2 separate regions of the Homo sapiens genome follow, and region 2 is linked to region 1. The links come from fine-mapping of genetic effects on gene expression. Tissue or cell type: subcutaneous fat. Region 1 holds a variant in brackets; the other region holds the start of a gene. All regions are shown on one strand. Distances are between the middles of the regions.

Evidence for each region. PIP is the estimated chance that this variant, and not a neighbour inherited with it, causes the effect.
Region 2: it holds the start of SYNPO2, and the variant in region 1 is fine-mapped to the expression of SYNPO2 in subcutaneous fat (GTEx, PIP above 0.99).

Annotation. Positions count from the first base shown.
Region 1 is chr4:119,023,071-119,028,222 of GRCh38, forward strand. SYNPO2 (synaptopodin 2) reads left to right here. Exons shown (of 5, transcript NM_133477.3): 2 at 360-511; 3 at 3,557-4,368. Among named protein-coding and RNA genes, the nearest start is that of SYNPO2-AS1, 41 kb to the left of the region's middle. The variant C/T (reference allele first, on the strand shown) is at 2,910.
Region 2 is chr4:118,886,061-118,891,212 of GRCh38, forward strand. It overlaps SYNPO2 (synaptopodin 2), which reads left to right and starts at 2,794. Exons shown (of 5, transcript NM_133477.3): 1 at 2,794-3,081. The coding sequence starts at 2,977.

The DNA.
Region 1 (5,152 bases):
TGGCCTGAATAATTATTTTTAATGCCATCAATGTAAGCCTTTAACATCTTTTTTCACTCTTCTCTATTTTTTATTTCTTTAATTCTGTCTGGTACCTTTACATTGATTTATTTACTTTCTTTTTTCCTGTTTACTTACAATGCTATGAATTAAATGTTCATATTATGGTACATGATAAAGTGTGTGGCTGTGTGTGTGTTCATAAGGTGGTAAGAAGTATTTAAATGGTCTTACAGGTTAACAGGTGAATTAAAATTCAGGGCTGGTGTTACTGTTGACAGATTTGTTTCTCAGAGATGGTGGCTTGCTTTTTACAAATTATATCATTCTACTATGTCTTCTTTTTTTACTCCACTCAGATTCGAAATCAGAGCAAAGCCTCTGGGTCTGGGCTCTGTGAGGGAGATGAAGTGGTTTCCATCAATGGCAACCCTTGTGCAGATCTCACCTACCCTGAAGTCATCAAGCTCATGGAAAGCATAACAGACTCTCTCCAAATGCTCATCAAAAGGTACAACAGATTTGCTGGAATATGTATTTTCTCTTGAAGCTACATGGGAATGATTATAGCTTTTACTACATATATAACTTGTCATTTATGGAGAAATTAGGGGTGCTTTGTAGAAGGTTAGGTATAGTTAAACAGAAACACCACTGTGTTTGAAAAATAGTCAATTCTAGTCAACCAAACTTTCTGGTTAATTGAGAATTAAGTTGAAAATGCTTGTTTCAAGCACTTTGTTGAAAATCTTAGGTATTTTAGGCTCCTTCCTTAGAAAGCTCAGTATATTGAGCATAACTTAATATTTCTTTGATAGGTCAAGATTTTGTGATGGATCAGAATCACTCAATTGTAATTATCAGATGCACAGATGAATTAAAAATGTTTAAATATTAGACCATTAAACTGTACAATTTTTCATTAAAAGGATGCTTAAGAGACAGAAAAGAGAAACAACAACAAAAACTTACAAGCAGCCGGATTTCTCCAGTAAAACCAATATTTGAGGATGGACAAAAGCAGATGATTAGAATAAGGTTTTTGCACGACCAACACAGGTCATTTGGGAATTCAATCTCTTCAAATACCACCATCCCCACATAGTTGTTTAACAATATAAAAGAAACCTTTAAATGTAAAAAACAAAAGAAAACAATGAGGACAATAACAAGGAAAACTACAGCATTGACATTTTTATGGTGTACAAATCACAGTACAATCCATACTGATTTTGCAACGGAAGCTCTGGCTATTGCATGATAATGAATCCAGAAAGGAAAGCTTTGGCTTCCTGGAGAGCAGCTTTTAGGAAGATGTCAGAGGACATCTCAAGATGAACCTCAAGGTCCTCCAGGTTTTTCCTCAACTCTGCAGAAACACTACGCACAGTTACCCCTCTGCTAATCATTCAGTATGATTCTGTTCCGGGATGAAAATGAACTCACTATGGCCAAAATCTTGAGACAACAATGGAAATCTAGCATTATTCTTATAATCTAAATATTTACCCATCAAACTCAGTGTTTAAGGCCTTAGAATCCTTCCTTCATGTTATGAAGAGAAAATAAGTTTATAAAATACATAATTTACTAATACATAATTAAATTTATAAAATAAAAAAAATTACAAAGTAAGTAACTAATTGGTAGGATTCAAAGTGGAATCTCAATTGAAAATCAAGTCAAAAGCAATTATTATCATCACCACCACTACCACTATTTTAAATATCTGAATATTGTTTCCTGCAATAAATATTTCTGTCACTCATATCACTGTCATCTATCAGTAGAGGACAAGTGTTTTTACTTTTCCTGAACTATTGCCCAGAGATAGCTCAGTAAGACTATTTTAAAATAACTCCTTTAACATTCCATCTCTATTATCTTGAATGTTCTTAAAATAAGATTTTAAAAATTCTATAATTGTGACACATAAATTGTGGACTTGATGAATACCTATGTAGACTGATGGGAAATGAATGTTTTAAGGCATAAAGCTTTATTCGCTCATGCTTTTATGATATTTACTCATGTCTATTTATTTTACTTCAGCTGCTGATAAATGTTAATATTTATCTGGCCATTTGTCTGTATTGGTCTACAAGGCTGGCATGAATTGAAACTATTCTCTTCTCAGCTTCACAATTGATTGCTAACGTTATTCAAAGTGATTTAATCTACTTCCATCCCAAGGCCTTCCTAAATTAAAACTCTCTGACCTTTTGGTACCCTCAAATTCAGTTTAACAATGTATTTAACATTTTCTACATAATAATGATCTAATTTGCTAACATCATGCTTTTTTAATACGATATTATAATGTTGTATAAATACTGTATTACAGGGAAGCTTTTCCAATTACTTGCGTATAGAGAAAGGTGCATTTTGTTTAACTGTTAGTTTGTTTTCATTTTGTTTAGTTTTGTTTTGCCAAATGCAGTTGAAAGCAAAGGTAGGAGTAAGTATTTTGAGCATTGGTCGGAAATTGCACTACCACATAAATTCTAAGGTAAATTCCTTTGAGTAGAATCCAAGTAGAAGCTCACGCCCTTCAGCTGACGTGCCTGCATGAGTCATAACTGTCTTTTAAGGAAGGAGGAAAGGGGCAAAGATAATTATGCTGCTTCCAAAATTAAAAAAAATACAAATATAAAAAATGAAGGCATTTCCTACAGCTGTTCTGTGAATAATACCTCTAAAAACATTTACAGTTTAAATTAGAGTTTCAGAAAGAAGTTATTTAACTCTTAAACTGACATTGCTTCTTCTCAGAAACCCAAATTTGCACAGACAACTGGGAAGATCAAAATCAAAGAGCTGTGGTGTACAGCTCTAGGCTCCTTAGCTGAGAGATAAAGGAACAGTTTGACTTCAGATATCCTAAAAAGAAAATGCTCCAAGAAACAGAT[C/T]CAAATAGAAGAAAGGGAGACATCTCAGATTATAAATACTCCATGACTTAATGATTCATTGCAGCACGGAAAGGATTTCTCTTTACGCAAGAGTACTGGGCTGGGTCCACTTATTACGAAACACATGCTCACTGGGGCTTAAAAAACAGCTTCTATTTCATTCCTTTCAAGAAAGCACAGCCTCTAAAAGGACTAGTTGAGTTATCTGTAAGTTAAGATTGATCTGAAGGTGCTGGATATGTTTATGTGACTTCATAATGTCTAGACCAAAACTTAGTCAATAAGACATTGAAATGCTTTGTCACATTCTAGCAAACTCATTATAAGAGATACCCAGATTCCAAGTACTTACAGATAAACGGGATCCATGTAGTTTTTTAAAAATAAAAGCTGAATTTAGGATGGATTCAGGTTTCATAATCTTGTGTAAGAGTTTCTTTGTGCTTTTAAAAAAGTTTATTTGGTATCTCTTTAAGTAATAATATGAACATGTTGCCACCTTCTGTTTTCAAATATGTTGCAACTGACATTTAGAAGAAAATATTTTGACTATATCACATATTAGACATCACAAAAGTGTCAGGAAGTTCTTTGGCAGATGTAACATAGTCTGATTTAAGTGTCTGGAATGATTTTTCTGTGTGCAGACCATCCAGTGGAATAAGTGAGGCTTTGATATCTGAAAATGAAAACAAAAACCTCGAGCATCTCACACATGGGGGTTATGTGGAAAGTACCACCCTGCAGATTCGACCGGCCACAAAGACCCAGTGCACAGAATTCTTCCTCGCCCCTGTCAAGACTGAAGTTCCCCTAGCTGAGAACCAAAGAAGTGGTCCCGACTGTGCAGGCAGCTTGAAAGAAGAAACAGGCCCGAGCTACCAAAGGGCTCCCCAAATGCCTGACTCCCAAAGAGGACGCGTGGCAGAAGAGCTGATCTTAAGGGAGAAGGTAGAAGCGGTACAGCCTGGGCCTGTGGTTGAGCTGCAACTGTCCCTTTCACAGGAGAGACATAAGGGCGCTAGTGGCCCTTTAGTGGCTCTCCCGGGAGCTGAAAAATCTAAGTCTCCTGACCCAGACCCTAACTTGTCACATGACAGGATTGTCCACATAAATTCGATCCCTACTAATGAGAAAGCAGACCCTTTCCTGAGGTCCAGCAAGATAATCCAGATCTCCAGTGGCAGAGAGTTGAGAGTGATCCAGGAAAGTGAAGCAGGAGATGCGGGACTGCCCCGGGTGGAAGTGATCCTCGACTGCTCTGACAGGCAGAAGACAGAAGGGTGCAGGCTTCAGGCAGGAAAGGAGTGTGTGGATTCTCCAGTGGAAGGAGGGCAGTCAGAAGCACCTCCTTCTCTGGTATCCTTTGCCGTCTCATCAGAAGGCACAGAGCAGGGAGAAGATCCACGCTCGGAAAAAGATCACAGCAGACCTCACAAGCACCGAGCGCGGCATGCACGTAAGTTCTGCCTGGGCTTTCAGAAGGGGCTTGGGAGTTGGGGGCATTTTGCTGCTTCTTTGCTTGCATGAGTTTTTCAGCAAGATTTTTCTTATGTTTCTCATTGGCTTAAAGAAATATTTAATTAATGCACAAAATCACAAATGTGAAATTGTGGAGAATACCAATTTCTAAATAGGAAGCAATAAGTCCGAACTTCATATAGATTTAAACATTTTTCATGAATTTCTTTTTATCCCCAAAGGCACAGGAACTGTTAAAGAAAATAATATTGTCAATGTGCCTGTTCATTTTGTTTCAGACAGTTGAAATAGTTCATGTTAAAATAGCATAAGAAAGCACTTGAAGTCATGTGGACTCAGTTTAAATGTCAAAAACTGTTGAGTCTGCTACTGAGAGGTGTCTTTAAAATAAAAGCTCTACCATTGATATCAAAAGCAGATCCTTGTTTTGAAAAAAAATCATTGTGCAGCTTGATGATGCTTGCAGAAGTGAGTTTGACAGACAAGGACATGTGTATACTGAGCAGTTACATGATCCTCTCCGTTGTGTAAGTCTTCATTTGACTGCAAAGTGTTTCATCTACCTTCTAGACACAGAAGTCAGTCTCCAGGGCCATGTGGAGGCATTTAAATGTCTCCAAACATAAAATATATTTAAATTCAGTGCTTTGTATGGCATTTTGTTTTACCCAGGGGAGAGAAGACAGAAAGGAGAATTGGGATAAGAATTGCAGTTAGGTGTTAGGATTTCTATTGTTTTATTTCACGTTTATTTTTGTTTG
Region 2 (5,152 bases), 140 kb before region 1:
ACAGAGGCAAGAAGAAAGCCTAGAGCTTGCTGGGCCCAAGAAGCCTAAGGGAGAAATGATTTAAGGAGGACACCATCACTAATTTGAAGCTAGACTTGAGTGGATTGAGGAGCAGAAGGGACATGAAAAAGTAAAAAGAACAAATATGAAAGTGTTTTTTTTCTTTGTTCTCAGAGCTCATTTTTTAAAAATTTTTACTTTAAGTTCTGGGATACATGTGCAGAACATGCAGGTTTGTTACATAGGTATACATGTGCCATGGTTGTTTGCTGCACCTATCAACCCGTCATCTAGGTTTTAAGCCCCGCATGCGTTATGTGTCGTAATGCTCTCCCTCCCTTTGTACCCCACCCTCCGACAGGCCTCAGTGTGTGATGTTTCCCTCCCTGTGTCTATGTGTTCTCATTGTTCAACTCCCACTTATGAGTGAGAACATGTGGTGTTTGGTTTACTGTTCCTGTGCTAGTTTGCTGAGAATGATGGCTTCCAGCTTCATCCATGTCCCCTGCAAAGGACATTAACACATTCTTTTTTTATGGCTGCATAGTATTCCATGGTGTATATGTGCCATATTTTCTTTATCCAGTCTATCACTGATGGACATTTGGGTTGGTTCCAAGTCTTTGCTATTGTAATTAGTGTCAAAGCTCATATTTTATGATGTCTCTTGTAACTATTGTTTAAAGGAAAGACTGGGAAAGTCAATTCGTGTTTCTGAAAAGAATCAAACTTGGGATGAGTATCTGGCCCTCATGACCTTCAAAGGGTCTCTTCCAGTGCCACAATCTCTGATTTCATTGTCCTCACTCCAGTGATGAGTCACAAATAAAATCACTTGATGCCTTTGGCTTCTGGGGAGCATGGGCTGTGTAAAATGTTCATTGTACCACAGGTCCTTGAATAATGCCATTTTATTCAACATTGTTTCATGACAACATTGATGAGAAAAAAAAATGTATTTCCAGCTGGGGCCACTGTTTGTATGGAGTTTGAAAGTTCTCCCCATGTCTGTATAGGTTTTCTCCAGGTCCTCTGGTTTCCTGCCACATCCCAAAGCTGTGCTCATGAGATGAACTGGCATGTCTAAATGGTCCCCATCTGAGTGAGTGTGTGTGTGTGTGTGTGTGTGTGTGTGTGTGTGTGCACCCTCTGATGGGATGGTCAGGGCTGTCCAGGGCTGATTCCTGCCTTGCGCCCTAAGCTGCAGGGAGAGGCTCAAGCCACTGGAGATCCTGAATGGGAATAAGTGGGTTGGAGGAGGAATGAATGTATGGATGCAAATTATTTTCAAAAAAAATTCATAAAATATATGTTAATCACACAAATGCACAGCAATAGATGATGCTGTATGAAATTTCTCAGTGAGCCTGCTATATTTGTGGTGGTTTTGAACTGCATTGTGACAGGAGGTACTCCTTATAATTTTCCTTTTGCAAACATTTATTCCTTGATTGAATCCACCACCACTACAGCTGCCCTCACTCACTGATTCACCAAAAATTGGGTCCATGATTATCTTGTTTTTATTAATCTTTCTTAAATGCATGTGTAGCTGACATTTATTTCCATGTTTAATATTAGAAGTGTTTTAATCTTATTTAAAAGTTTGGTGATGTCTTTGTGACCAGAAATAGACTGTAGTCACTTAACCTTGTTTTTATCAATTAGTCGATGGTAAAATTGGTTTTAAAGTCACAGTTTCCATGAACCTATCTGTGACGTTTTAAGTGAGGACTTACTGTATATAGTGCTTCTTAGTGCTGAAACAGGCAGCGTGTCTGGAAATTTTGTTTGGTACCACAAGTAACACAAACAAACTTTCCCAGGCTCTTCCTTATTTAGTATGTTTTTATGTGGATGAATGTTATGGAAAACAAAAGTATTATAGGAAAATTAAAATGTCCTTTTTGTACATTTTTGGCAGATTGTATTCAGATTTAAAACATTTAAATATTTGGAATATACAAAATCTGCTTTTATATTGGACCACCCAGATTCATGACATGGGATGACAAACTATAAAAATAAGAAACCTGTAGGTGACATTGTACATTTTATGCAGTTGACTAACTGTTGGGTTTGGGTTTAAGAAGATCAGCAGGTAGAAAGAAAACAAAACACGTTAAAATTTAACATACCCAAAACTATGCAATAGATGTAATTATAAGAATGTAGTTTCCAGGAGAAAAATTCATATTCATTTTCTCTCTTTCTCTCTCCCTTTCTGTCTCTTCTCTTCCCCTTTCTCTAAATATATGGTTCAGAAAGGTACTTTTCAGAGCTGGAGGTTTATTAACAAAAAGTTTGTGCTTTCTTTTGTTTCCTCTTATAGGAATAATTCAGCAGAATGCAGACAGAAAAGTAGTAATTTAACTCATTTTAACTCTTTTTTGTCTATTCCATTCATAAATGTGGCAAGTCTCAAAACATTTATTTGAGAGAATCTAATCCTCTAGTAGTTGAATTCCCAACGCTCCTATTTTAGGACGTCATTCATGGCGTGGAGATTAAACCTTCATGTGTCCTTTACTATTTACAGAATTATTAAATGTAAGTTTTTCAATCATACTTATACCATTAACTGCTTGGATTTAATCTGTTAGTGCAAGATAACTTTGGCTCTCCCTTCCGTCCTCCTTTCCCTTATCTCGCCCCACGTGAGGACATTCTCCTGTGTGTGAAGCTGCTTTCCTTTCCTCGAAGGTGGGCCGAGCAAAGGAGAGTGACGCAAGAGTGGGCTGTGTCCTGGATGCTGCGAGCGCCTCTGCCTCCTTGAGAATGAGCCCATTAGCCGCACAAATTCGCAGCAGGCGGCTGGGGCGGCGGCTGGGGCAGCGGCTGCAGCAGCGGCGGACGCTCTGCATTACCCAGTCTTGCGTCCTCGGCAGGCGCCCGAAGCTGAGTGCGCATCCTCTACCGCACCCAAGCTTCGTCTGTCTCGTCAAGCTCTTCATGCTGCCCAACTAAAAGGAAAACATGGGCACAGGGGATTTTATCTGCATTTCCATGACTGGAGGGGCGCCCTGGGGGTTCAGATTGCAAGGTGGCAAGGAGCAGAAGCAGCCCTTACAAGTTGCAAAGGTAGGACCTGAACGAAGTGTCACGGCTCTGTGCTAGGAAGGAAGGAATGAAAGCAACCTGCTGATGGTGTTTTCAGGTTCTGATGCAGAAGTCTAAGTATTATTTGATTTTGCTGCGGATATTAAGATTTTTCTAGGAAGTGAGTTATTTTCTAAGAAACTTTGGAGAGTAATGGGCCACATCCTATGTAATTAACTTGCAATCGATGAGGGGTGGGTGGGAAGAATGCCATATTTATCAGCTGAGGAAAAGGCCTAGTTAACCATGTTCTTCTGACAACAAGCAAGACACTGGGGAGCGTTTCTTCCAGGCAATTTTAGAATGTTCAGTTGAGTTATTGTTTGATGTCACTTCACTTGGCTCTGGCAGAGGAGAAACGCTCAGTTCAGCATAACGACTTTGCTTGGCTATTTTGGGGACTCATATAGAGTGTTGGTAGTGACATTTATTATGCAGCATTCATGAAAAGGCCAATGTTGGGCAATAATTTTAAAAGTATGATGAAGTGTCATAAAATCTATTTAAAAGAATACCCTTTTAAGGATTTGACAAATAAATGCAAAAATCCAATAAATGCTGTATTCCTTCTTATGTACTCTTTTGGTCAAGATCTCAAAAATAAACTTAGAAGATAATCTAAATATATTATGAGTAACTAAGAGGTAACTTTGTAACACATTAATAACTATTTAAAATGCTTTAAGTTTTTATTGCCATTAGATTGCCTGCATTACTGGTTAGCCCAAGGGGATCTGGTATTCTCTAATTGGCATTCAGCTAAAATAAAACTTAAAATGCACAAAACTAAGCAAACTTTTACCTAACCTTATCATCAAATTGCAAATTATAGTATTGTATTGAAGAACATGCAAGAGCATGGGATTAATTTCCTATTTTATGCTTATATTAAAAATGGGTACAGATCTTTATGAAATACATGGGCCATTGCCTTTGTAGTTATTGTTTGTTTCCCTCTGGCTTTTACTCTTTTTTTTTTGTAGTTATTGTTTCCCTCTGCCTTTTACGTTTTTTTTTTTTTAGTGTCCTTTGCGAAGAAAGAAGTTTCTTTGAAACTCCTTTTTGCTTCCAGGCATCATATGTAAATCCTTTCGTAATGTGATGGTGGAATCCTGCCACCTAGTGAAAATTGCAAACATCAAGAATGAACCATAAAACAGTAGATGAAAAGCAGAGTTTTTATTACTGGAAAGTTCCTCCGAGGTCTGCAGTTCAACCCATGAATTTTAGATGAGGAAAGAGCCCAGAGATGTTAAGTAACTTGCCTTAAGTTTTCAGCTTGGAACTGGCAGAGTGATTAAAGGCTCAGAAAGGTGGTTTTGTTGGGTTCCTTTAGGAGTCAATAGCAGGCAACCTCAGATAAAATATGAATGCCCAATTTAGCATATGTAGAATTCATGACACTGAAGCAGATTTGTCCTGAGTCTAGAATAGCAGTTGGCTGGCTCTAGGTATGAGATTTGGGTTCTAATTCCAGCTCTGATCTAACTTGCAGCCTGGCCTTAGGAAAATCTCTCACCCTTCCTGTCTCATCGGTTTCTCTCTCTCTCTCTCTCTCTCTCTCTCTCTCTCTCTGTGTGTGTGTGTGTGTGTGTGTAGGGAGAGAGAGACAAATATTTTAACTTAGGTGGTAAAGAAGTAAGAAAGAAATTGGACTGTGCAGTCTACGAAGCTCTGTCTTGCCCAAGTATTCTACGATCCTGATAGTGTACAGTTTTAGAATCGCTTGCCTACTAATTGAAATATGGGGACAGAGTGGCTGAGTGCTGTTGTTCTCTGGTGGCTCTTTGGCAGCCAGGCCTCAAGAATAGAGTGGGTAGTGGGTTTCTTCTGAGTTCTGCATGTGACGATTTCAATGTGGGACCTCTTTGCGGCGATTCACTGAAGAGCTGAAGCAGATTGCTAGGAAAGGGTGCTGTGGAGATTCTCTGCTAATGGCATCTCTATTTTCAGGATTCAGTAAGGTTGTTAGGCTATGTCAGAATCCAGTCCTACACTCCCCCTAAATCATCCTTCCTAAAATACCCAGCAATACATTTGTGGTTTTCAAAAG